4 linked regions of the Homo sapiens genome follow. The protein of the gene in region 1 interacts with the protein of each later gene in a pairwise test. Each region holds a gene or a part of one and is shown in the gene's direction. Other genes may lie near its edges.

Region 1 (5,734 bases):
CAGGAACCTGGCGTTGGGCCCAGGTTGCCCACCTTGAGCTGCCCTTCCATCCCTGAGCACCCCCGTCTCTGCCCCACTGAGCCCTGGTGGTCTTCTTCCATCTAGACTCCGTGAAGGCAGGATCTGTTCCCGTAACAGCTAATCCAGATCCCATTCCCGGGTGTGTTAGAGCCCCCCAACCTTGTTTTGACTCCTAGATGGACCTGGGCTTCCCAGGGTGTGGTATGTGGTTCCTAAAATACACTTTCTGGTTCTCACACAGATCTATGGCTATGACGAGCTCCAGATGCTGCAGTCACGGCTGCCAGTGGTGAGTGGGGTATGGACTGGTCGGAGCAGAGGGTTCAGAATCTTTTACATGTCCCCCCTCTTATGGTCTTGGCTGCCACACTCTCTGGCCCTTAGGATCCTCTGCCTGAGGAACCTCTCAGCACCACTACTGAGAAAGCTGTTTTCATCTGGCGGTTGTGCCAGGCGTGACCATAGCTTTAGCACAGAGTATCCAGTGCTCATCCCTGGGAAACATGAAGGCCTTTGGGACCTGGGGCCCTGGTAGGCCATGTCCCCTGTTAAATGTTGGTCCTTATCTTCCCTCCTCCATCTTGTTTTCTCTCTCTTTTTTAAAAAGAAAAACCATATGACACAAGACATGGAGGTTGCTTACGTGGCCCTGGAGTTTTATACTGTCTTCCTCTTCCTCAGAGTACCATATAGTGTCTTTGGTCTGAGATGGCCAGTGACTGCTCTTCTGCAATCAGCTGAGTGAGTGGCTTGAGCTGATGGTCTTTAAGGTCTCTTCTGGGTCTGGCCTCCCATCTAGATTTGTGAGAATGCCTGCCCTGGGACGTCCCTGGTGGTTGCAGCCTTACTCTGAGACCAGGGTTGCCTCTTTCTTCTGACCGTTGGTGCCAGAATGCAGTGTGGGCCTTTCCTGGGATAGCCACATGAACAGAACTGTGGGGACAGAGGGGAATAGGCCCGCTCCTTGCCCTGCCCATGGGCAGGACTTCCTCCTGGGAGCCACTGTCTTCTTGCTCTGCCATTTCCCAGGGCACTTGTCAGAGAGTTGCAGGCAGTTTGGACACCACCTCTGCTGGATACAGTCTTTCCTGTTGCTGGAGGAAGAGGCTTTCTCCCTTGTGCAGTGATGCCTTCTTCCCCGTGGGTGTTGCTCCCTTCTCTGCTGCACCACAAAGAGCTGACGGAGCTGCTCTTGTTTCAGAAGAGTAGCCCTTTCCACTGGCTGGCCGTATTTCCAGAAGCAGAGGCCTAGCCTGGGAGCGGAGCGGCTTCTCCCCACTGTGCAAACCAGCAGCCCTTTAATCTGCCGGCCAAAGGCCCAAACTGCAGGAGGTGGTGCTGAGCCCCGGGATTCATTCTGCTTCAGGGGCTCTCCGTGGTCTCCACACTTATTCACAGCACTCTTTTGGCTTTTATCACTTTGTGCCTTAGAGAAAACACCCTCTGGAGCCCACCTTTTGAGATATGTTGCTCTTTCTATCCCTCGGGTTGTTTGTTCACCTCTGCTGCTTGTGAGCCTAGTTCCTGCCTGGAGAATTCTCGTGTTCTGTGAAAGTGCTCCCCCTTCTGGGCTTTCTCTGCTCCCGTCCTCAGTTGTGCAGCTCTGTGTGTTCCCAGCTCTGCCTCTTCCGGGGGTTCTAGGCTGCTATGGGTTTCCGGGAGGTTTCCTGGAGGGTGTGAGTGCCATTCCCAGCCAGGATGGCTCCTTTCTGGGATCGGGCACAGCCCAAGGGCTTTGCCTTTCCTCAGGGGCCAGGTGTGTCCAGGAGTGCGAGGCCCTGGATGGTGAGTGAGGGTCAGGTCAGACCTCCCCTCCTCCACGAAGCTCCACTGTGCTTTGCCGTCTCTGTCTCCACACTTTGTTGTATCTGCCATACTTCCCCCAAGTCCTGGGCCAGGGGTGTCCAATGTTTTGGCTTCCTTGGGCCACATTGAAAGAATAATTGTCTTGGGCCACACATAAAATACACTAACATTAAAGATAGCTGATGAGCTTAAAAAAATTGCAAACAAATTTCATGTTTTAAGAAAGACGAATTTGTGTTGGGCCACATTCAAAGCTGTCATGGGCCGTGGGTTGGACAAGCTTGTCCTAGGCCATGTCAGTGTTTTGAGAGCAGTGTAGGTGGTGACAGGCCAGTTCTGGGCTTCACCTGGGGTCCTGCTTATTCCCGTGCCTACCTGGCACTGCCCCCTGTCCCCCCTTAAACCTTTCAGGCCCCTGCACTTCTGTTGCCTCCTTTTTCAGGTCTGCTCTGTTTAGTCAGCTTTCCTAGCTGCTCTAGTCTCTCACACAGAAAAGCCAGCGAAGTTGGTTCAGCCCGAGGCATTCACACAAGCACCTGCCTGTGGTGTCAAATGGATGTGTGAGGCTTGGTCTCCAGCAGCTCTGCCTGGTGAAGCTGCAGGGTTGGCCGGTCTGTGTGCTTATGTGTTAGGCAGGCCGCCTAGTTGCACACTCTTCCGAGGGGCACCATTTACTTGGCGTTCCCTGGGACTGCTGGCTCTCAGGCATGGAGTCTGTTTCAGGAGTGTGGCGTCACCACTTCCATGTGCTGGTTCTGCTCTCCTGGGAGTCAAGCAGGGCCAGTCGCTGATCAAGCCTCCCTGGTCTCTCCTAGGACTACTATGGAATTCCCTTTGCTGCACCCACAGCGCTTGCCAGCCGAGATGGGAGCCTAGCTAATAATCCATATCCAGGTGAGTTTGCTCAATGGATGAGGAGTAGCCCGGGGCCGGCCTAGCGCGAACTCCAGGAGCTGGGAAGCAGCAACAGCAAGCTGAGAGAGGCCTCTTAGTAGCCTGTGCTGAGCTGGCAGCCAGACCTGTTCCTGTTTGCAGAAGCCAGTGTGGCCTTTCTCTGGTTGGAGGAAGGGCAGTGGCTGGAGTCAGTGCTCTTTCCTAGGTGATGTCACAAAGTTTGGCCGTGGGGACTCTGCATCCCCTGCACCCGCTACCACACCAGCTCAGCCACAGCAGAGCCAATCACAGACCCACCACACAGCCCAGCAGCCCTTCGTGAATCCTGCACTGCCACCTGGCTATAGCTACACTGGTCTTCCCTACTACACAGGCATGCCCAGTGCCTTCCAGTATGGCCCCACCATGTTTGTGAGTATTTCAGAGGGTGTGACTGTGTCTCCTGGCCTTGGGTTGCTGGCAGGTGGAAACCTGGGACCTATCTTCCAGCAGGGAGGGAGGGTTGTGATTCCACTCCGTCTTACCTGGTCTTCAGAAACTGTTCAGGCTGGGGACAAGGTCACTTTTCCCCTGCTGTGTTTAGATCCAGCATGTGTTGCACTAATGAAAACACAGGTCCCCTGTGGTTGTGGGTATGTCACCTGCTGCCTTAGGCTCTGGCAGGGGTACCTGACCAGCCTCAGCTTGCCTCTTCCTACACTAATACCTCATCTGCTTGCCCCCCCAGGTCCCTCCAGCCTCAGCCAAGCAACATGGGGTGAACCTCAGCACTCCCACACCTCCCTTCCAGCAGGCCAGTGGTTATGGCCAGCACGGCTACAGTACAGGTGAGGGGTACTTCCCAGACAGAGACACATGGGGTTAGACAGGCTTGCCTGGCTCACACTTGCCTCTTGTACCCTGCCACGCTAGGTTATGACGACCTGACCCAGGGGACAGCAGCAGGAGACTACTCCAAAGGTGGCTATGCTGGATCATCGCAGGCACCAAACAAGTCTGCAGGTTCTGGGCCTGGCAAAGGTAGTGTTTACCTCTCCTTTCCAGGATAAGGCCTGGAGTGGTGGGCTCCTGCCTGATCCCCTCTCAGGCAGGGCAACCCCTGAGTGATCCTGGAGGTGGGGAGCCTGGAGCTGGGAACAACTGCTGTGGGGAACAACTGCTTTTCCTCCTAGGAGTATCAGTGTCTTCAAGCACCACTGGTCTACCTGATATGACTGGTTCTGTCTACAATAAGACACAGGTGAGGGACAAAGGTGGGTTGGGTGTATAGGTTTTTGAGAGGTTACAGCCCAACCTGACCTTCACCATTGTCTTCTTTGCCCTGTAGACTTTTGACAAGCAGGGATTTCATGCAGGGACGCCTCCACCTTTCAGCCTGCCCTCGGTCTTGGGCTCCACTGGGCCCCTGGCCTCGGGAGCGGCCCCTGGCTATGCACCCCCACCATTCCTACACATCTTGCCAGCCCACCAGCAGCCCCACTCACAGCTGCTGCACCACCACCTTCCGCAGGATGCACAGGTGAGTACAGTGATGGAGGCAGCCACCCTACTCTGGGCCAGGGGTTCTGCTCCAGCCTTGACAGCCTTCCCTTCTCCTCTTCCTCAGAGTGGCTCGGGTCAGCGCAGCCAGCCCAGCTCCCTGCAGCCCAAGTCTCAAGCCTCCAAACCTGCCTACGGCAACTCTCCATACTGGACAAACTAAACCCAGAAGAGAGGGGTGGGCTGGGGCAAGGCTTATCCTGGGCAGGAGAGAACACACGAGCACGTATTTGGGAGCCCAGTGCCCTTTCCTAGAATTCCCGACATGTGTCAGCCATGCCTCTGTGGGGAGTCTGCCTCCCAGACTGGCTACTGTATGTAATGTATTTATGTATGTATTTGTAAATGTGATAGAAGTCTGGGGGGGAGTTGGGGGATGGCGGCAGATGTTAGCCAGGTCTGCCCTCCCCATTCAAGCCCCTTCTCCACTGTAGCAAAATAAGCACCCCCACCCCATCTGCCTTCAGGTCTTCTTCACAGCCTGCACTGCCCAGTGGGCCACTAGGGGCAGTCTCTGGAAGGGCTGGTTCAAGGCTGTTTGGGTATAGGGGTCAGGTACCAATGAAGAATCACGACTTGTCTCACTCCTTTGGAAATTGTTTTCTTTCCTGTGTAATTACTTCATACCTCTGTTTTTGAGAAACTGTTCCGTTTGTCATCTGTCATGGTCTCCTTCCACCAAATCTTCATCTGGGAATAGCAGCGGTATCCCTCCACCCAAGTATGGCCACCTGTTTGTCTTCATATAGAACAGGGGCTTCTGGTCTGGTCATGTCCCTAGAGACTTACTAGAGACTGGCTGACCATGAAAAAAAAAAAAATAATCTGAGTTATTCAGCCAGTCAGCTCCCCTTTAAAAATCTAAGGTATCTCCAAGCAACACATCTCCATTCTAGTTGTCTTGAACCACGTGGGCAACTGTTTCAGGGGTTTTCTCTTGCCCAATCCCCACCTAATAAAGTTCTGAGAGCATGCATGGTCTCTGTGTGGTGTGACTGAAGGGCAGCTCAGGGCAGAAGCCCTGGACTTCACAGGGCTAAAGGAGATCCCACATGGTCATAGTCTTCTGACACAGGCTATAAAGGCTTGAAATGGTTTTCCTTTTTACTGGACCCTCTTGGCCCAAATCACAATGGCTGTAAGGACAGCTAAACCTCCTTACAGGGCCCAGGCCATGTTGATCAAAGTTAACCTGGCTTTTCTTATAGCTCCTTAAGAGACTTAGGGATAGGGCAGTGTCCCACAGAGCCCTGTCCACTGGATACCAGGGCAGGGTAATTTCTTTTCCAAATCTCAGTGGACTTTTACAATCTGAAGCAAAGCCAAGAACTGAGAGCAGGGTTCTAGGCCTTAAGGGAGAGTATGAACAGGTATACCTGTCTTTTGCTTGTCATCAACTGAACATAATCTTGATTGGCAGTCAAAAGCTATGGTAGAACACGTGACTAGTGAGGGTGTCATGAGGTAGGCTGGT
Region 2 (7,030 bases), on another chromosome or scaffold:
GTTTGCCAACCACATGATCTAATAGGCACAAAAACCAAGTTAAGTCTTAACCCTACCAGGCAGGCTGTACAAGGCCTTGATTGTCTCCTGGTAGCATCCTCTGGCCCAGGCGGGAGGGCGAGAGCCTGCTGCCTCCTGCGCTCTTCTATTCTATGAAGCTTATGCAGAAACAGCACATCAAGGTGCTAACCTTGATATTGTTTCTTTTTTTAATTAATTAATTAATTTTTTTTTTTTTTTGAGAGACGGAGTTTCACCATGTTGCCCAGGCTGGTCTCGAACTTCTGAGCTCAAGCAATTTGCCCACCTCAGCCTCCCAAAGTGCTGGGGATTAGACATGAGCCACTGTCACGGCCTAATCTTGATATTTGAAACACATGATAGGCGTTCCTCAGTCTTGCTTTCAAAGGTACTCTTCATAAGCCCTGGCCTCTGAGTCAGTCTCCAATTATTGGGTTCTAAAGCCTCTTCTTCACGTTTATACTGACCCAACTTCCCTTTGCCTTGGTTGCTACAATTTTCTTCTCTAGCATAATGTTATTCTATCCAATGATGCGTGGTATTGTGTTTTTTCTTTTGAGTTTTGAAGTGAAAACTGATAATCAGAGGTAAGAATCCACAAATGGGCTTCTGGACATTCACATGAAGAAAGAGGGCCTTCCCACCTTGTGATTAACTAGAAAAACTGTGCTAACATCTGGCATGGAACCCTGTTCTTATTGTCTGTTCCAAAGCTTATGCTGAAGTCATTGAATGTATACATCCAACAAGAGTCCCAAGCCCTGGGCTAGTGCTGTAATTCGTATAGCAGCCCACACATTCTTGCCCTTGTGTAATACCACGAATGAACACCCATAGTCACCCAATACATATTTTGAAAATTTAATGTGTGCATATTTAAAATGAGGATATGCCACAGATTCAACTTCTATGATGGAAAAGAATATCCAATTTGACTGTGAGAACTTTGAATTATTTCACCGATACCTCTAAAGACTGATAAAATTGACTGCAAAAATTTTTTTATCCTCCCTTCCATACATTTGGATTCTTTGAAAAATATCTGGAGTTCCTGAATACATCAAGGCAACATTCAATCAGTAAAGCCATGTTCTTTTAAAGGCCCAATGACTGGAACTCAGTGAGAATGTCCCAAAACTGGCAATGCAGTTTTGAAATGGCTCTTTTGCTCCATGCTGCACATTTTGAACAATGCATAGATGATCTATTGTAGCTTGGCTTTGTTATTTGGTTAACGAAAAATCCAAGCACCAATGTCACCTCTTCCAAGAAGCTCATCCTGAGTCCTTCCTCGGCACCCATGGGACATCTGCTTTTGGCTTGGAGGGCTTTTCTGACCCTAGCCCTATTTGGCTGGTGTTTATGCCTGCCTCAACATAGTAAACCCTTTGTGTATAGAAACTGCCTTAATGTTCCCTTGATCCCTCACAGGCCAAGCCCAGCCTGACTCATGGCAAGCCTTCAACAGATGTCAGTAAAAGGAACTCAACCGTCAAATGCATAGAATGAACATGGGGTCAACTCTCCTCCGTAGCTCTCTTCCGCATGTGGGGGAAAGGGCCTAGTCTAACTGGCTTCTGTGATGCAGAATCCACTCTGCCTTATGGTCAGATAGGATATGTGGCCTATCTTAGAGGTATCCTTCCCATCTGGGTGAGATTAACATTAGGACACGGGATGGAGTTTGGAATAAATACGACAACCACATACACGTCATCTCCAGGACTAAAAAGGCAGAAACCACATTTAGTAGGGGCATCTACTGGACAACAGAGAAAAAGAGACCACAGCAAAAACACTTTTTGTACTGCAGAATTATTTGATGAGTTACTACTACAGGACATTCCAGGTTTCCTAAAAGAAAATTTAATGATTGTTCAACAAGTTCCCAAAAGGGAGTAGGAAAAGGGAGTTGGAATCTCTTCCAAAGCAAAAAAGGAAGGGAGGTGACTTTAAATAATGCTTTAAAACCGGTTAGAAGTACACAATTTCATCCTTTAGTAATATTAGTCATGGCCACGCTCTAAAGGCGGGGTGAAACCTACTTGCCTGGAGGAAAAGGACGGGGTAGAAAAACAAAGCAAAATAAAATCCATCAAACAAAAGTTTCTTCTTTTGGAAAGGGAGGGACTTCAAAATCATGACAGGCCAAATGCCTCCTCCTCTTTCTTGAAAAGCCCTCCAAGTCAGAAGCAAGCCTGAGAATAACAGCTGCTCTTAGGATGCTCAAAGCTCCTTGCAGCTGATTATTTTTCAGGAGGAGAATTAGACACAAATAATACAAGTGGGAAATAAAGAGAATGACCTACTTTACAGGGGGGGTAAAAAGGAGCTCTGTGTGAGCGTTTTGATCTAATTGACGGTGTGGGGTTGCATGCCCAAATAAGGCGCTGCTGGTCGGATCTGCGAGGGAGAGGGCACGTCTCAAACTCGAGGGAGAGGACGAGACAGCGAGAGGAACAGCGTCCGGGGCGACCCCCAGTCCACCGCGGGGGCCTGGCGCGCTTGGGGCAAAGGCCCTAGGAGACCCCTTCTGGCCACAAAATCGAGTATGACAGAAAAGGGCCAGCGGGGGCGCTTTCCTTCCAGGGCCACTTGCCGGAATGTAAGAGGGACGGAGAGACGTCCGGAAAAGGCTGCCACGCTCGGAGCGCTGCGCCAGGCCAGGCACCTAGGCCAGGGGAGCGGAGACCTCGTGGGAGCGGGCAGGGGGACCTTTCCCCTCTCCCGGGCTTCCACCCAGGCGCCTCCCCGCTGTGAACGCCGCCGCCCAGGTGAAGGGGAAACCGGCCACGTTTCCGGACCTCGGCGGGGCACACGGTCTCCGGTTTTCACCGGCTCTGTCTTGGAGCCCCGAAGGGCATCAGACAGCAGCCCCGGCACCCGGGGATTATTCCTGTACCTCTGCCTCCCTCCGCTTGGCGTTTGCGGGAACCTTGGTAAAATCCTCCCTGTTTCTCGCGCGCGCCTCTCTCTCCAGCTTCTTTTTCTTGGATTCTCGCCTGTCTCCTCCCACAGAGGAAAAAAAAAAAAAGGTCACGTATGTTTGGAAAAATATGTAGGTCAGTGGAACATTTCCTGCACTGGTGCAAAAGGAGAGGAGGGCAGCGGAGGAGGGGAGGGAGAGGCAGAGTGGAGCTCCAAGTGCCCGCTCCTGGCCGCAGCCCCACACCCCACGTGCCCCTGCCGGGGAGGGGGGCAATTAGCCGGTTCCTTTCCATCCTTGACCCATTTTCCGGACCAGCTACGTTCGCCTTAGGACAGGCACTGGTTATTCCTCCCCAGCAGTCGCTGCTGTCCTCCGCCGACCACCGCTCGCCCGCATCTTCCCCGACCCCCGCCTCCCACCTGCCCCCGGGCCGCACCCCCGCCGCTCATTGAGAAATCGCAGTGGTCCCCGCAGAGACGCGCTTTGTGCCCTGGGTCGAGACCTGCGCGCAACCCTGCCCCTGGAGGACAGTGTGGAGGGGGTGACAGTCGCGTGCTCGTCCCCCTTCATCCCCTGCGCGGGACAGCAGGGTGGCGGCCCGCACTGCGAGGGTCTACACTAGGCGGGGGCGGCAGATTCCTTGTTCCCCCCGAGTGACAACTTTAATGGGACCTCGGCTGGCAGCCTCTAGTCCACTTGCCTCTCCTCTGGGCCGGCTCACCTGGAAGCACAACCCCCCCCTCCCCCAGCCCCGGCGCCCAACCCCGACCCTGCGCCCCAGGCCCGACCCCGCCGCGCGTCCCTGGCAGCCCAGCAGAGGCTGCGGCGGCCTGGGGACTCGCGGGTGTCTGCGCCGCCCAGGGAAGCCGGGGGTCTAGGGGGCCGGGGGTCCGTCTGCCTGCGGCGCGCGCGGGGTGCTTGTCCCAGGCTGGGTCGGGGCCAGGAGAGACCCCGCAGGCGGAGGCAGGCGAGGGGAGGAGGAGGAGGGTGGGGGTAGGAGGGGGAGGTGGAGAGGGAGGAGGGTGGAGGGAGGAGGCAGGGGAGGAGGCAGAGGCGGAGGCGGCTCTCCCCGCCGGCTCTGCGTGCGGAAGAGTTTGCCGCGCGAGCAGCCGGCCTCTCGCAGGAGCCGAGGGACCCGCGCGGCTGCGGCCCAGGAGCGGCGGCCGCGGAGCCCGGAGACCCGCAGCCGCGGCGGCGGCGGCGGCGGCGGCAGCAGCTAGAGCAGCGCCTCCCGCCGCCGCCCGGGAGGAGCTCGCCGCGCCCGCTCGCCGCCTCGTCTCCCAGCGGCGGCGGGAGGCGCGTCTCCCCGGCCCAGTCCGCGCCCGGCCCCGCGGGGCCGCTCCGGCCCGCTCCGAGGTAAGGGGCCGCGCCTAGGGGCGCGGGGGACCCAGGGTGGGTAGTACGTGCGCGCGGGGTCGCAGGACTCGGTCACCTGCTCGCCAGCGTGGAGGACGCGCGGGGGCGGAGGGGCGCTCAGGCGCGAGGCTGCGCGGCACCGGGGACCCCGGACGCGGGGGCGCGGAGAGGTGGGTTCCCCTCCACAGTCAGGCCGCTGGGGGCTTCGCGTCCTGCAGGAGGTAGCAATCGCTGGGCCGGTGGGCTCCGGGCGCGTCTCGACGCAGAAGACAGAGGACTGGGCATCCGAGCCTCGGAATTTGGGGGTCCTCGGGGTGTCCGACAGGGTGGAGAAGGATCGTGCCCCAGGGCAACAGCTTTGGGGATTGCCCGTGGTTGTCTTCGAGACCCATCGCGCTACCCTCCGAAACGTCGGGCGTCCTGGACCCCCGGAGAGTGCGGCGTGCGCGCCCTGGGCCCGCGGTCTCTCGGAGTCCCTGGGTCGGAATTGGTTCCGGGCCGGATTGGGTGCGGAATCGGTGCCCCCAACCCCCGTGTGCGCAGACAGCGTGCAGCCTGGCTCCTCACGTCGCTGCCGCCCCCCCACCCCAACTCCGGAGCTCCCCAGGTTGGATGTATGCGTATGGTTTTGTTGGGAGATGTGCCCCTTTCCCAGCCGAGGAGGGACGCACCTTTGACCTTTCTGAAGAGCTGGGCAGGTCGGTAACCAGGGAAGGGACAGGCACCACCCGGCTAAATTCAGAACCAGTCCCGCTCCTCTGCTTGCCACTCCTTAATTGCTCAAGGTAAGAAAGTTTGTTTCAGCCCTGTGATTCATAAATAATTAGTAACTAGTTTTGTTGATTAAGCAAGATGGAAACCTTGAATATACGCACGCACTTCCACAAAGTCTAAACACTCCCGAGCTTGTGTCCGGGAGGCTTTAGTACGGAAAGTTAGAAGCCCTGGAGTTCAACAGGTGTTCAGGAGGGTCCCGGAGAGGAGTTTCGTCTTTACGCGTTGCTTTGGCATCCACCCCAACTTCATTAAAGTGGTTAGCCTGTTTTCCTACAGGTAAAACATTGATCACTTATTAAATTAACTTAATCAGCAGAGACGAGCTAAACCGTCTTGATCATTTAGAACCCAAACCTTATTTTCCTTAATAGAAAGGTTTTTCCTGTTTGAACTTCCCAGGTAATTAGTTCTAAAGTAGTTCCCAGCAAGACATCTCTGCCAGCATCTCTCTCTCACTGTAGCTTGGTCCCCATCAGTGAATTGACCAACTAATTATGGCTTGCATTAAACACAGAGCTGCCCTCCTTGGGAGGCACTGTTCACATTCAAGCGCACACACTAGCTCCATCTTCCTGCCACTAAGATGTCCTTAAAGGAAAAAGTTAGCCAAAAATAACCCCCAAATAAATAGTGTAATGTTTAAAAGAGTTATCCTGACCTGCGCCACTATTTTATAAAAGCAAAAATTCAGTGTTTCATTACAGCGCTAAACCAGGACCAGTAGAAGTATTGGTATCTCTCAGCAGTCTACTTAAATATTTAGTTAAAAATAAAGTGTGCAAAGTAAAGACGTTCAGTAATTATCTTCCATCTCACAGAGAGATGTGGAGTATGGCTTAGAAGAATTGTAAATGCGCTGCTTTTAGCCGTTTTCTTCTTGGAAATCGATGCCTCTATTTATTTGCTGATCTGTCCCACTGTGCGTAAATGTAGAATCGGTTTTATTCTCACTGCTTCCCAGAGGGGCTCCTGTGGAGGTGAAAGAAGGAAATACGTTCTAGAGGAAATATGTTATTAATAAAACGTTACCCCCAAAGAGTTAACCACGCCAAAAATAACCAAGTGAGGCTTTACTAATTAGTGGTCTGATGAGAGAGTGTTCAGATGATGACTAAAGAATTGATCTTTATGTAGAAAACAACAATTGTTTTTAAGCTCATTTGGTTCTCTTAAAACAGTTTGGGCCCTTTAAAAAAATTTCTGGCTGTTTAATAATGCAAATGATGAAAATCGTTAAAGATAACACATATAACCTGATGTGTGCCATGTTTAAGTTGAATTCACCCTATTTTTTTGAACAATCTTTCTTAACTCTTGGTAATCTTTATAGCTCACTCAACACTGCAACTTATTAGATTAAAAACTGAAAGTTAATTTTTTCAGAATAAAATAATAAGGCATGCGTATACTTTTTAATTTAACCATCTTTATATGTTCATTTTTTCAGAGTCTTGCTTTTGAATCTTAAGAACCCAAAGGGCTAAGTCTTCTTTCTTAATTTTTAAAACAAGCATGTGTTTTGTTCTTTACATGAATCGTCGGTTCTCCCAGTGTGATCACGACACTGTCCCATGCTGATTCCATGCACGGTGCAACTCTTTCCCAAGAGAGGTCAGATTTCGAGGTGTTGAAAATAGCCCAGTGACTCAGTATTCTTGGCTGCTTTATGCCAACGGTTTAATTGGCTGCATCATAGCAAGCATCTAATTGAGTTTCACATTTAAATAGTGGATAGGGTACTTGGTGCATTATTTGCTTACAGAAGTGTCTGATTAGCATGTTCCTGATCCTCGTTCTATTTGTAGCAAAGATGGGAGGTCAGGGACTGTCACATTTCATATTCCCCACAGCATCTCATCTCGATGGGGCCTTGTTCAGAATAGATGCTCAGTAAATAGGTGTGGGAAATGAGCTGAATTGTTGGTGGTCACTATCCAAAGGTGAGAA
Region 3 (7,649 bases), on another chromosome or scaffold:
CAATGCACTGGGGATGACAGAGAAGAAAGATGGAAGTGCTTAGTTCTTCACATTGTTTTCATGCCTGAACTAAGCCACTCTGCATCCTCCTACCTACACACGTGATTATGTGAATTAACAAACCCCCATTGTTTAAGCCTCTTCAAGTTGGGTATTTGATCACTTGCAGCCAAGATCATTCTGATCCACACTCCCTCCCATACTCAAACACACACAGCCTATAACTTGCCTCCACTTTACTTGGGTTCCCAATGACTCCTTAACTTGTAGTTTGGTTGATGGTAGAGCCATCACTCACAAAAATGCCCATGGCTCTTTTACTGCCTGTGGGATAAAATTCATATCTGGAAAAATCCAAGTGTGTTCTCTCACCTGGCCTCTCTCTAGCTTATTATTTTGTTTTACTTATAACATTGTCACTACAAAAGTAAATTAAAGTGGAGAATACCTGAGCAGACAAAGCCAGTTAGGCCTCATAAGTGACCTTATCATTGCTTGATTTACAAACACAAGCAAAACTAAACTTAAGCTATTTCTTGTGAATGCCTATATTAATGAAAAACAGAACCGAAGTCCAACCAAAAAGAAGCCACCAACAAACTTACATAACTAGGGACTTTTCAATGGAATAGATGAAATAAGGCAACTTTATAACTGTAACCAATCAAATATTTTCCTTGTATCACTTCTTCATCTCTCTATAAAAGCCTGTGTCTTCAACAGACCTCCTGAACCACTTCCGCTTTGGAGCTGCCTGATTCATGAATTGCTATTTGTTCAAATAAACACTTTAAAATTGTATTGCGCCGCAGTTTATTTTTCAACATCACAAATGGAAATTACATTGGGCATTTATGTGCTATCAATTTATTATCTGTTTATTATCTATTTTCAATGTAAGTTCCATGAGAATATAGACCTTGCCTCTTTTAACCACAACTGTCTCCTTAGCATAAAGATCATGGTCTAGCACATCACAGTGGATGCTTCAAAATTATGTTATGGATGCATAAATGATTGGAGGCCGCAATCCACCTTTCCCACATGCTCTTCCTAAATACTTCTTCATAAAATGAAACCCCTCTCTCATCCATGAAACCGGTAACAGTGCATCATTGTATTAGTCGGTTCTCACATTGCTATAAGGAACTACCTGAGACTGGGTAATTTGTGAAGAAAAGAAGTTTAATTGACTCACAGTTCCACATACTGTACAGGAAGCATGGTTGGGGAGGCCTCAGGAAACTTACAATCATGGCAGAAGGCAAAGTGGAAGCAGGCACATCTTCACATTGCAGAGCAGGAGAGAGAGAGAGAAGGGGGAGGTGCTACACACAGACAGATCTCATAGAACTCTCTCACAATACAGCACTAGGGGGACGGTGTTAAACCATTAGAAAATACCCCCATGATCTAATCACCTCCCACCAGGCCCCACCTCCAATCCTCCAACATTGGGAATTACAGTTCAATATGAGATTTGGGGGTGGAAGTGGCAGAGGCAAAAAGAGAGAGGCGATGGAGCCCTTTCTCTCTGCTGGGCCTCGTGCCTGCAGCTGTGTGCTCACCGTTTCACTTAATCCATTCAACAGCCTGATCAATTAGGTGTCATTAATGCCATTTAACAGCTGAGGAGACATGCCCAGAGAAGTGGAGTGATAGGACAGCTAGCCACTAGAAGCAGCAAGATTCAAACCCAGGTGAGTCTGGCTCTGCACCTCACATCCCTCCCACTTTGCTGTAATACCCAGAGACCATCTGGCTCAGCCCTCTCATTTCACAGGTGAAGAACTGAGCAGCAGCGAGAGAAATTGCCAGAGTTACACCTGTTGTTTTCAGCACCTTGTTTGATTTCCTTTCATTTTGCCTCTTTCCAAGGTGTGACTGGCCCCTGGACAGGTTAACAGATCCAAACCATATCAACCATGCATGCCTCAATGTGTCCCTGCTCCAAGTCTTTGTTCCTACAGTTATCACCACATGACCTACTCATTCTTTGGTGCCCAGTTCAAATTCTGCTTCTGAGAGTCAGTAGGGGACACTAGAAAGATCAAGGTAATTGACTCAGCATGGAACACTAGCTGTGCCACTACATAGCTGTGGGACCCTGGGCACATTACTTAAAGCCTCTGAAGCTTAGTTGCTTCACTGTAAAACAGGGCTAAGATATCTACCTTAGCAGAGTTTATTTGCTTGTGAGTTTTACAGTAGATTCAATAAGACAATTCAGAAAAGGGACTTATATATGATGGCCCCTCTCCTTCCTTTGTTGTTCCTCCTCTTCAAAACTTTCATTAATCCAACAGCCACTCAATCTCTGACTTCTCTGACCACCCACAAGATTCCATCACGGACCATTGATACTTCCTGCCTTGTGTCACTGTACGTCTGCAGCCATGTCCCCCTTCCTCCCACCCCACCCCACCCCCACCCCAGAATGTAAGTCCCTCAGGGCAGGGGCCATATCTCTTTCATCTACATCTCCAGAGTGTTTGGCACATAGTAGATGCTCAAGAAATATTCATGGAATGAGCATACATGTGAGTGATAAAAGAATTGAAGTCAGTAACGTCAGGATTATGGCTAATCATGGGAGAGAGGGGAGTAAGCGTCCGGGTCCACACCACAGAAGGGTGTTCTGTTAACCTGTCCAGGGGCCAGTCACACCTTGGAAAGAGGCAAAATGAAAGGAAATCAAACAAGGTGCTGAAAACAACAGGTGTAACTCTGGCAATTTCTCTCGCTGCTGCTCAGTTCTTCACCTGTGAAATGAGAGGGCTGAGCCAGATGGTCTCTGGGTATTACAGCAAAGTGGGAGGGATGTGAGGTGCAGAGCCAGACTCACCTGAGTTTGAATCTTGCTGCTTCTAGTGGCTAGCTGTCCTATCACTCCACTTCTCTGGGCATGTCTCCTCAGCTGTTAAATGGCATTAATGACACCTAATTGATCAGGCTGTTGAATGGATTAAGTGAAACGGTGAGCACACAGCTGCAGGCACGAGGTCCAGCAGAGAGAAAGGGCTCCATCGCCTCTCTCTTTTTGCCTCTGCCACTTCCACCCCCAAAGATCCTGTCCTTGCTCTTGACCAAGCATCTCAAGTACCCATCAGAGCTTCCTCTGCCCTGAGTGTAAGGAACCTTGTCCTCTCATCCAACAACCCCTTCCATGGACCAATGGTGGGCCTGACTTCTAGGGGACTCTGGCCTCTTCACTGCAAAAGTCAACAAACTGGTTCATTTGTCTCCTGGCAGGAAAACTCCCCTGTCCAGCCCTAGGAAAGGGATAGGTCTAAGCAGGGTCATGTGACTCCCTCTGGCCACAGAATGTGAGCAGAAGGTCTATCAACCACTTCCACTTCTGACTCATCAAAATTTCTCCTTTCAACAGAAAACCAAATACTGAATGTTCTCACTCATAGGTGGGAGTTGAACAATGAGAACACATGGACACAGGGAGGGGGAAAATACACACTGGGGCCAGTCAAGGGGTTGGGGGCAAGGGGAGGGAGAGCATTAGGACAAATACCTAATGCACGCAGGACTTAAACCTAGATGATGGGGTGATAGGTACAGCAAAGCACCAAGGCACATGTATACCTATGTAACAAACCTGCACATTCTGCACATGTATCCCAGAACTTAAAATTAAAAAAAAAAAATTCTCCTTTGCTGTCTCCCTTTCCCCAGAAAACTTGGAGCCTATGATTGGAGAATGGTGGCATCACTGTTTGAAAGGAATCTGGGTCCCTAAATGACTACATTAGAATGTGATGTGGGTGAGCTATTATGCTCCCAAGACTATAGGGTTTACTTGCTACTACAGCAGAGCCTATTCCCCCCCTAACTAAATCAGACAGCCTGACACTTCCAAGGGGCACAGCTCCTAAAATGGGGCATCTTTACCTGTTCCCTCTCTCAGGGTGAGTCCCTCTCTCTCCTGACTCACTCTTCTCAGGGAGTGGAGACCAACGTTCCCTATCCTTCACCTCCCACCCCTGCCCTCTATGAGAAGATCTAGATTCTAACATCCAAATTTACATTCACAGTCTCTGCCAGGGTATCCATCCCTCCTGTGCAAATTGGCTCCTTGTGGCCAGCATGGCATCATGGACATCCCCAGGGGAGTACTGTGATCAGGCCCTGCCATCACATTTTCTGTACCTCCTTGGTCTGGACCTCAGTTTCCCCATATCAGAAAGCCCTGGAATGCTTTTCCTGATCTGATATTTGCAAGCCATGGAAAGCACATCTGAGAGCAAATGAATGCCTAAGGCTGACAGCCAGCAGACTGCACCTCAGCCCAGCCTCCCCCACACATGACCACAGGCTCTCCTGGCTGAGTAAACATGTTTTATTGGGCCTGGGTACACTTCCTGGCCATTCTGCTCCCACCTTCCCTTCCCCTGCTCTGGCCAGTTCCCCAGCACAGCCCCTCCCTGGGGCCTCCAATACCTGTCCTTCAGATCCCCACTGCCTCCTGCCACTTTTCTACCCTGACACCTGCATCCCCAGCCTTAAGGGGCGTGGAGAGTTTTTCTCTTATCAGCCTGTTTTACTGCCCCCTCCTCCTTGGTTACACAGTAATTTGGAGCAAAATTCCAGGCAAGGACAGATCAACAACTGTCAGCTCCCAGTCAGAGAGAAAGGGCCTCTTCAGTCTGTCTCAGGAGACTGGGAGAAACAGCATAAAGGACCCCACAAGGAAGGGAGAGGTACCCTGGGTCAGGCGCTTGTGGAGAGAGGGCTTCGCATGTAAAGTGACGTCAGGGAAAATAGAACAGAAAAAAAGCCAGGGCCAGCCCAGAGGCACCTGAGAAGAATCAGACCCACAGCTCAGCCCAGCCCTGGCACAGAGAAGAGACAGGCCTGGCAGCACCCAGGGACCCCCTTTCCTCAGCCTCCACCTGCAGGACAGCAGGAGCACTGATGCGCTGAAGGTACGTTCTGGAGTCTGGAAGCAGCAGAACTGAAGGAAGTAAACACGGGTGTCTGGGAAGACCCCTCAAGCTGCAGTAAAGCCCAGGACTGAATTGGCCACCTGAGGCCAAGGGTGGCACTCCAACCTCCTCCTAAAGGCTGGCTAGAGCCACAGGAAAGGGCCAGAAGCCAGAGAAAGGGCAAAGGTGGACCCCTGCCTCCAAACCTCCTCTGGAGACTGACCTCCTCTTTCCTGTGCCTTATTGTTTCTCCCTCTTCTCTTTGTTCGCCACTGGGCGGTGACCTCAGGGATCCTGGCCTAACCTGGTGATTGTGCAGGCAACTGTGTCCGAGAAGACCCTTCTCTGGAAGATTGAACCCCAATTCAGCCATGGTGACTCCTTTGATGTCAAACTGGTAAGGGCTGAGCCGTGGGCACAGGATACCACTCCTTCCAGCTCTTCTGCTGTGACCTGCCCATGGAAGTCCCTGTGGACACGAAATCCTGTTTGGATCATCTAACTGGAGGCTCTCTGTTCTTCACCTCCACGCGCCCTCTTGACCCCAGGAGGTTCAGGGGAGGAAGTACGCCACTCTCCACTGGCACCCTCCTTGGCCTACACAGAGTCACCCCTGAGCCCCTCAATGTGTGCTGAGGTGGGCCCTGCTCTCTGCAGGGGTATGGAGAGAAATAGCTTGGGGTGCTGTGAGGCCCCGAAGAAGCTGAGCCTGTCCTTCTCCATTGAGGCGATCCTAAAGAGGCCTGCCAGGAGGAGTGATATGGACAGACCAGAAGGGCCAGGTGAAGAGGGCCCCGGAGAAGCTGCGGCCTCAGGCTCTGGGCTAGAAAAGCCTCCAAAGGACCAGCCCCAGGGTAAGTGTCTTCTGATCATTTCTTTCTGTTTCCTGGTCTCCAAGACCCAGCTGGGCTCAGGCAGAGAAAAAGCTTCTCCGTCCATATTAACTGGATAGAGGACTCTAAAATTCAGAGCAAGACCTGGCTCTGGGCTGGTTTCCTGATATACCTTTCAATCTAACCCAAAACTGTGCTTTTCAGCTTCAGACACCAAGGCTCAGTTAGTTGCAGAATGCAGGGACCTGGGGCTTGTTATTGTAACCAGGCCCCGGCTAAGAATGCTAGTTACCATTTATTCAGCATTGACAATGTCATAGGCATTCTCTTTTAATTTCAGTAGAAAAGCATGATTATCATAACTGGACAGATAAGAAAACTCATCTGTGAAAGAGAAGAGGAGGATAATGTCCCCAAGTTACACAGCTGGTAAACAGAAGCCCCGCTATCAGGACCTGGCTCTGACTCCCCCAAATCCCTGCTGGGCCCAGCACAGTCTCCTCCTCATAAGCCAAGTTCAGTCTGCACAACTTCCAGGGGCTGAAGCTTTGCCCAGGGGCCGAAGCTTTGGCTTGGGAAAAGTCTGTCCACCCTGATCACCTTCCCCAAGCCAGTGGCCACCCCAAGGCATGTCCCCAGATAACAGTGACCAGGTAGATCGAGAGCTGGCTTGAGGAAGGGAGGAAAGCCGCACTGGGGCATTGGTGTGGACGCACACACCTGCTAACAGTCAGGAACCCAGGATGTGAGTCTTAGCTCTACCTTGGCCTGCTATGTGACCTCAGAAAAGTCCCTGTCCACTGCAGCCTCAGGTTTATTCTCAGCAAAACACCTGGGTGAAGGAATAAGAAATGGTGAAGCTGGCGATGTCTCAAGGGCCTTGTCAGTCTGACTGTCACTGAGCCTGGAATATCTCACATGAGGTTCTCAGTTCTCTCCCCTTTTCACCCCTTTTAATCCCAGAAAATGCTGGAAAGGAAGCTCAGGGAGCCCTTAATGTCATTACCTGCCATAAATAGAGCTCCACATCCCCACCAACGAGGCAAGTCTCCCATGGAGGGAGCTGATGAGGGGTCGCACTCAGCTGCAGGCATGAGGAAGACCAGGAGGGCTGTGTGTCTGCAGGCAGGAAGGAGCCTGGTGTGTTTCCCTATAGCTGAGTTTTCCAAAGGGAAAGGGTCTCTAGCTTAATTTTTGGAAGTTCATTAATATCTTCCAGTCCATTAAAGATTCATAGGAACATTTCCATTGGGGTCCTGAGTCTCTCCTCCTGCAGTTGTACAAATCTATGATCACCCTGTGTCATGAGAGAGAGGTCTCGCTTTTCCTACCAGAGAAGCTTCCCTTCCCCTAGCCCGATGACGGCAGGCTTCAGAAAGGAAACCACTCTTTCTAGGCCTCCACGGAAGATTCTGGCATGTTCCGTGTCAGCTATCCATCTGGTCCCAGAACAGACCCCAGTAAGTGCTGACCAGACTAGCGGTGGTGACATCGGATGGTGGTATATTCCTTCCACAGCACTTTTGTGGCCATTTTCCCATCTCACTGTCACACTTGGGAGCCCAACTTACAGATGATGAAACCAAGAAGAGAAGATAAATCCCCCACAAAAACTATGTGAGTAATGAGCACTAGAATTGAACCCTGGTGGCCTTAGACCATCTACTCTAGATTATTCCTGAACTTAGTTTAAATCCATCCGTCTCCCACTATGCTGGAATTCGGCATTTCTGAAAGCTTGGAGAGGGTCCCACTGGCGGCTCTCAAGATGACCTTGGTGGGTATGTAGATAAAGATGATCTAGCTCAATAGTCCTGTAATTACTTTTATACTAACCTTGTATTTATGATGAAAGACACTGTTATCTGTGTATGATCAT
Region 4 (5,844 bases), on another chromosome or scaffold:
GGTGAATCACGAGGTCAGGAGATCAAGACCATCCTGGCTAACATGGTGAAACCCCGTCCCTGCTAAAAATACAAAAAAATTAGCTGGGCGTGGTGGCGGGTGCCTATAGTGCCAGCTACTCAGGAGGCTGAGGCAGGAGAATGGCGTGAACCCGGGAGGCGGAGCTTGCAGTGAGCCGAGATTGCGCCACTGCACTCCAGCCTGGGCGACAGGGCGAGACTCTGTCTCAAAAAAAAAAAAAAAAAAAAAAAAAAAGACAGGGTCTTGCTGTTGCCTGGGCTGCAGTACAGTGGCATGATCATGGCTCACTGCAGTAGCGACCTCCTGGGCTCAGATGATCCTCCTGCCTCAGCTTCCCAAGTAGCTGGGACACGGGTGCATGCCACCACACCTGGCTAACTTTTGTATTTTTTGTAGAGAAGGGGTTTCGCCATGTCGACCAGGCTGGACTCGAACTCCTGGACTCAGCTGGGCGCGATGGCCCACGCCTGTAATCCCAGCACTTTGGGAGGCCGAGGTGGGCAGATCACCTGAGGTTGGGAGTTCGAGACCCGCCTGGCCAAAAGAGAAGAAACCCTGTCTCTACTAAAAATACAAAATTAACCGGGCGTGGTGGCTCATGCCTGTAATCCCAGCTACTGGGGAGGCTGAGGCAGGAGATTCACTTGAACCCGGGAGGCAGAGGTTGTGGTGAGCTGAGATCGCGCCGTTGCACTCCAGCCTGGGCAACAAGAGCGAAACTCCGACCTCCCAAAGTGCTGGAATTACAGGAGTGAGCCACTGCGCCCGGCCTAATCTTTCTTAAACGTATGTATAGCTCACATTTATTTCAGTGTTTAATATTTCAAGTGTTTTCATCCTTATTTAGAAGTTTGGTGATGTGTTTGTACCAGAAATATGGCATTGGAACTTCACTCTTGTTTATGTTAATTAACCTGCGTGAAATTGGTTTCATCATATGTCATTTTGCTTAAAGCCATAGTTTCCAAGAGCCTGTTGACAGCATTAGGTAAGGACTTACGGTGTCCTTTGTTGATGCACGTTGTCTCATCAGCCAGTCTGTTAAGCACCACCCACATGCCAAGCTCTGTGTTGGCTGCTGAAGGCCGGATGTGAATTGGTCAGCCTGGGTCCCCACCTTCACAGAGCTGTGTCCTCATCCAGGGACAGTGTGCAGTGGGCAGGGCTGGGGACGCAAGCTGGGAGGGAGGAAGGGAAGGAAGTCGGTACAAAGGCTCAGAAGTCTGAGCGAATGTCCTCAGGGGGCAGAGGAGAGGGTGAGGGAGGGATGGAGGCAGCTGGGCCCGCAGGCTGCAAGAAGCCTTCCTCGGACACGCTCTCCAGGCTGGGAGACCCGCTCCAGGGCTGGAGCCAAGCAGAGAATTCGCATCCCCATTCGGATGGCTGCGCTGATGGTGCAGCCCTGGAGGGAGGAGGCGGTAGCTGCCATTCCCAAGGGAAGGTGGGGGTCAAGGGCAGGAGAGGGAGGGCTGCAGGGCTCAGGCCTGGTGACTGCAGGCTCCTGAGAGCAGCCAGCGGGAGGGTGAGCTTCCTTCAGCTCAGGGCTGCACACCTGCCGCCTCTGTTCCCCCACTTCTGCTCTGCCAGGCTTTCTCTGAAAAACCTGGCGCCTCACGCCCCAGCCGTCCTGGGATTTCTGGTGCCCCCCAGTCTGGGCCTCCTCCCTTCCTCTGCTTGCAGCAAAACACCCGAATGAAAAAAAAAAAAAAAAAGATCCATGGCCAGGTGCAGTGGCTTTTGCCTGTAATCCCAGCACTTTGGGAGGCCAAGGCGGGCGGATCACTTGAGGCTAGGAGTTTGAGACCAGCCTGGCCAACATGGTGAAACCCCATCTCTACCAAAAATACAAAAATTAGCCGGGTGTGGTGGCACACAGGCCTGTAATCCCAGCTACTCGGGAGGCTGAGGCAGGAGAATTGTTTGAACCCGGGAGGCGGAGGTTGCAGTGAGCCAGCATTGCACCACTGCACTCTACCTAGGCAACAGAGTGAGACTCTGTCTCCAAAAAAGAAAACTCGCCAGGCGCGGTGGCTCACGCCTGTAATCCCAGCACTTTGGAAGGCCGAGGCGGGCAGATTGCCTGAGCTGAGGAGTTCGAGACCAGCCTGGGCAACACAGTGAAACCCTGTCTCTAATGAAATACAAAAAATTAGTAGGGTGTGGTGGCGTATCCCTGTAGTCCCAGCTACTCTGGAGGCTGAGGCAGGAGAATTGCTAGAACCCGGGAGGCGGAGGTTGCAGTGAGTCAGAGATTGGGCCACTGCATTCCAGCCTGGGCAATGAAGCTAGACTCCATCTCTTAAAAAAAAAAAAATCCATGAGCATCTCCTCTCCTCCAGCCATGCCCTCCACACACACAGGCACGTGGACAGACACCGAGTGCAGCCCTCCTACCTGGGGCCTGCCTCTGCCAGCACAGTCCCCTCCTGTATGGACCCTGGCCTACCCTCCAGACACTACATGGCAGCCACTGTCCTTTTCGAGCACCCAAACGAAGATCTGCCTGTCCCGAGCTTCCACGTGTTCCCCAGGGATCTTGGCCAATATTATAAGGCATGATGATCATGGTTGACTTCCACAGCCCCCTTTCCTGTGGCCCAGCCTCCAGCCCTTGGGCAGGTCACCTGGAGCATCTTGGTGGAGTCGCAGCGCCCACTTCCCAGGGCATTGTGAGGGTTCGCGCTGAAAGCACGTGCAGCCTGTCATGGGGGTTATCAGGAAAAGTCATGGAGGAGGAAGGGAGCCTGGGGAAGACCCCCATTGTTCCTGAGGGAAGGGGGAGCTGGTTCTTGGGGGCTGATGATCTGGGGATCCAGAGAGCCTGCAAGGTCTGCAGAGGTGGGTGAGGGAGCCCCAGCACCCTAGAGGCCTGCCCCTGCCCTGGCCGGGCTGTGCCAGAGCCCCTCCCTGCTCACCCCTGAACTGACGAGCACCAGCAAGTTGGTCTTTGGGTCCCCTGGCAGGTCCCCCCCTGGGTGGCCCCGGGTTCGTGGTGGCTAAGGGCCCCTGAGCATCTCTCCCCTGGCCTTCTAGGGACAGAAGATGAGCCTGTCGGTCCTGGAGGGTATGGGGTTCCGTGTGGGCCAGGCTCTAGGCGAGAGGTGAGCGCGGCCCCTCCTGCTCTCCCCCAGCCTGGCTGGCAGGGCTGGGCAGGCCCCGGGCGGGGAGGGTTGCATTGCTCCATGCAGGAGTCGGGCCTGTCTTCCTCCCTCTTCCTGGCCTGGCCCCACGGCCTCAGCTTGGTACTGCCCCACCAGGCTGCCCCGGGAGACGCTGGCCTTCAGGGAGGAGCTGGATGTCCTCAAGTTCTTGTGCAAAGACCTGTGGGTGGCGGTGTTCCAGAAGCAGATGGACAGCCTGCGCACCAATCACCAGGTGGGAGCACCCCGGCCTGCCCGTCCAGCTTCCTCCTGAGGGCAAGACCAAGAGAGTGGGAGGGGAATCCCCCGGCGCCAGAGCAGCGGCTGCCGGGACCCGCCCAGAGCTTTCCCACAGGCGGCCGCAGCTCTTGCTCTGTCTGATCCTCTAAGGGAAGCCAGGAGGCTGCGCTGGGGCATAGGGGGTGTTTCCGGAACTTCTCCAGCCTACCAGGAGTGAGCCATGCATGGGCAGAAAGCCCCTGGTGGCTGCCTGCCCTACCCCCAGTGTGATGCTGCTTGTCCCAAGCTGGTCTAGTCCCCCAGTGACACCCAGGCTGTACCTGCCCTTCTGCATCTTCCTGGGCCGGGTCCCCAGCTTTTCTGCACAACCCTGGGAGGCGAGGGCAGGACCCACACTCCCCAGGGCACAGGCACCCACTCCAAGTTTGGAAGCCCTGGGCCCTACCAGAGCACTGGAGGCCAAGGCTGTGACTCCAGTGGTTCTCAGGAAGGGGGCCTTCCCAACCTCAGCCCAATCTAAGACCTGGGTTCCTGCTTACCCTCCCTGCGCTTCAAATGTACAGGCCCCGACCCCACCCACCAGCCTCTCCTCTCCCCCAGGGGACCTACGTCCTGCAAGACAACAGCTTCCCCCTCCTCCTCCCGATGGCCTCTGGCCTGCAGTATCTGGAGGAAGCACCCAAGGTATGGGGGGAGCTGGGGCCTTGTCCACACCTCCCTTCCTCCTGTTTACCCAGCCCCATCCCACATCAGGCCTTTCCCCAGGCCTAAGGGGTGCCCCAGACCTCGGGTGCTGGCCTCCCCTCTCTTCCCATGCTGGTCTGTGTTCCCTCCTCAGTTCCTGGCCTTCACCTGCGGCCTCCTGCGCGGCGCCCTCTATACCCTGGGCATTGAGAGCGTGGTCACCGCCTCCGTGGCAGCCCTGCCCGTCTGTGAGTCATGGGGGGTGGGGGGATTCTTCTCATCCCTTGAGTTGCTGGGGGCTTCAGAGTTCCAGCCCCACTCCTGTGTGTGTGCCTGGGAGGCAGGCCCAGTTTTAAGTCACCTGCTCAGCCACACGGCTGGTGCAGGCCCATCTGTGCCCCTGGCTCCGTGACGTCGCCAGCCCTGCAGAGAGAACTGTCTGGCGGTTTTGAACATCGTTTCCCAGCATGGGAGCCGAGGTGGACGCAATAGAAGTTATCCTCACTGATCCTTCGATGGGGGCGACGGCAGGCTCCAGGGAACTTGCAGCCTGCCTGACTGGGTGTCCTCTGTCAGACAAGCTGGAGCCCCATTCCTGCCTGGGGACAGCCTGCCCCACCACCTCCCCCACCTTCAGTTATTTTGCCTCTGCCGGTTCCCCAGGCCCACTCATGGGGGCCCCCGGGGCCCCCGTGGGGTAGGACCGAGCAATGCATACCACAGAAGCCCGTGCCGGGCGCTTCCCTGGGGCCACATCCGTGGCCCTCATGCTCCTGGTTACTCACACAGCTCAGGGATGCGGCCCCGTGGGCGGGAGGAAACAGCCCAACCTAGCCACTGGGGTGTCAGTGCAGGACGGGGGTGAGCGCCTAAGAGCCGTCCAGGTGCCCTCTGCCTCCCCCATCCCATCCTCAAGCCTAAGCCAGGCCTTCTCTTCCAGGTAAGTTCCAGGTGGTGATTCCGAAATCCTAAGCCTGCCTCGCACCTGCTGAGCCGCACTGCTGCCCCTGGCCTCACCGGCCTCAGGAGACGGTGGGGCCGCTGCATTTCGGGGTGGTCTTGGGAATCCCAGGCCCTAGGGGTCACATTTGCTCAGGAAGTGGGTATCAAATTGAGGTGGGGGTGTCAGAGGAGGCAAAGGGGTCCCAGCTGCGGTCAGGACTGTGGTGGGATTCCCGCCTCGGCAGCGTCACTGCCCAGTAGCTGCTCAATAAAGGCTGTGTGTGTGGAATCTGACTCAGAGCAGTGGGGGAGGATCTGTGGACCGACTGTCACAGGTCCTGCAGGGGAGTGGGTACCCTCTCTGGCTCCCATGCCCCTCAGACCTTCCCTCCCCTGCCACGTCCCCCTCCACTCCCTCCCTCCCCGTGCTCCTGGCAGAGGGATGCTGGCCTCCGGCATGGGCGGCCTTACTGGCACCTCTGCCAAGTCAACAAGTCTGGGGCTGCCCTCTGCCCGGCGATGTGCACAGAACGGAGCGTCTTCCTGGGGAGCAGGGCTGGGAGTGCCCGGAGTGTAGGCCAGGTCGGGCTGGGGCTGCCAGGGCTGGGGATGCATGGGGTAGGGGGAGGCCAGACACCCCCATGGACACACGCGGCCCCTACGCACTCCTGCTGCCCGTCCCTGGGCAGAGTGGCCCTTATGCTGCCCCCTCCCACCCCGCTCGCATCTGTAGCATCTGGGGACTCCTGGGCTTCGCCGCCCGCTGCCTGACATGGGTAAGTGCCCCAGGCTCAGAGCTGCCCACCAAGGCTGGGGG

Evidence for each region.
Region 2: the proteins of UBAP2 (region 1) and NPAS2 interact in binary tests that used the Homo sapiens proteins (3 or more experiments, as listed by UniProt).
Region 3: the proteins of UBAP2 (region 1) and ISX interact in binary tests that used the Homo sapiens proteins (3 or more experiments, as listed by UniProt).
Region 4: the proteins of UBAP2 (region 1) and TRAPPC6A interact in binary tests that used the Homo sapiens proteins (3 or more experiments, as listed by UniProt).

The regions. Positions count from the first base shown.
Region 1 is NC_000009.12:33,921,193-33,926,926, reverse strand, and holds the end of UBAP2 (ubiquitin-associated protein 2), read left to right. Parts: intron 1-262; coding exon 263-310; intron 311-2,642; coding exon 2,643-2,721; intron 2,722-2,926; coding exon 2,927-3,132; intron 3,133-3,448; coding exon 3,449-3,548; intron 3,549-3,633; coding exon 3,634-3,741; intron 3,742-3,893; coding exon 3,894-3,961; intron 3,962-4,048; coding exon 4,049-4,240; intron 4,241-4,327; coding exon 4,328-4,423; 3' UTR 4,424-5,234; downstream 5,235-5,734. UniProt on the Homo sapiens protein: Recruits the ubiquitination machinery to RNA polymerase II for polyubiquitination, removal and degradation, when the transcription-coupled nucleotide excision repair (TC-NER) machinery fails to resolve DNA damage. May promote the degradation of ANXA2.
Region 2 is NC_000002.12:100,816,109-100,823,138, forward strand, and holds the start of NPAS2 (neuronal PAS domain-containing protein 2), read left to right. Parts: upstream 1-4,030; 5' UTR 4,031-4,306; intron 4,307-5,046; exon of another isoform or gene 5,047-5,091; intron 5,092-7,030. UniProt on the Homo sapiens protein: Transcriptional activator which forms a core component of the circadian clock.
Region 3 is NC_000022.11:35,061,526-35,069,174, forward strand, and holds the start of ISX (intestine-specific homeobox), read left to right. Parts: upstream 1-4,632; 5' UTR 4,633-4,937; exon of another isoform or gene 4,938-5,226; 5' UTR 5,227-5,562; coding exon 5,563-5,791; intron 5,792-7,649. UniProt on the Homo sapiens protein: Transcription factor that regulates gene expression in intestine. May participate in vitamin A metabolism most likely by regulating BCO1 expression in the intestine.
Region 4 is NC_000019.10:45,162,405-45,168,248, reverse strand, and holds the end of TRAPPC6A (trafficking protein particle complex subunit 6A), read left to right. Parts: intron 1-3,054; coding exon 3,055-3,122; intron 3,123-3,278; coding exon 3,279-3,396; intron 3,397-4,001; coding exon 4,002-4,085; intron 4,086-4,239; coding exon 4,240-4,333; exon of another isoform or gene 4,334-4,339; intron 4,340-5,025; coding exon 5,026-5,057; 3' UTR 5,058-5,316; downstream 5,317-5,844. UniProt on the Homo sapiens protein: May play a role in vesicular transport during the biogenesis of melanosomes.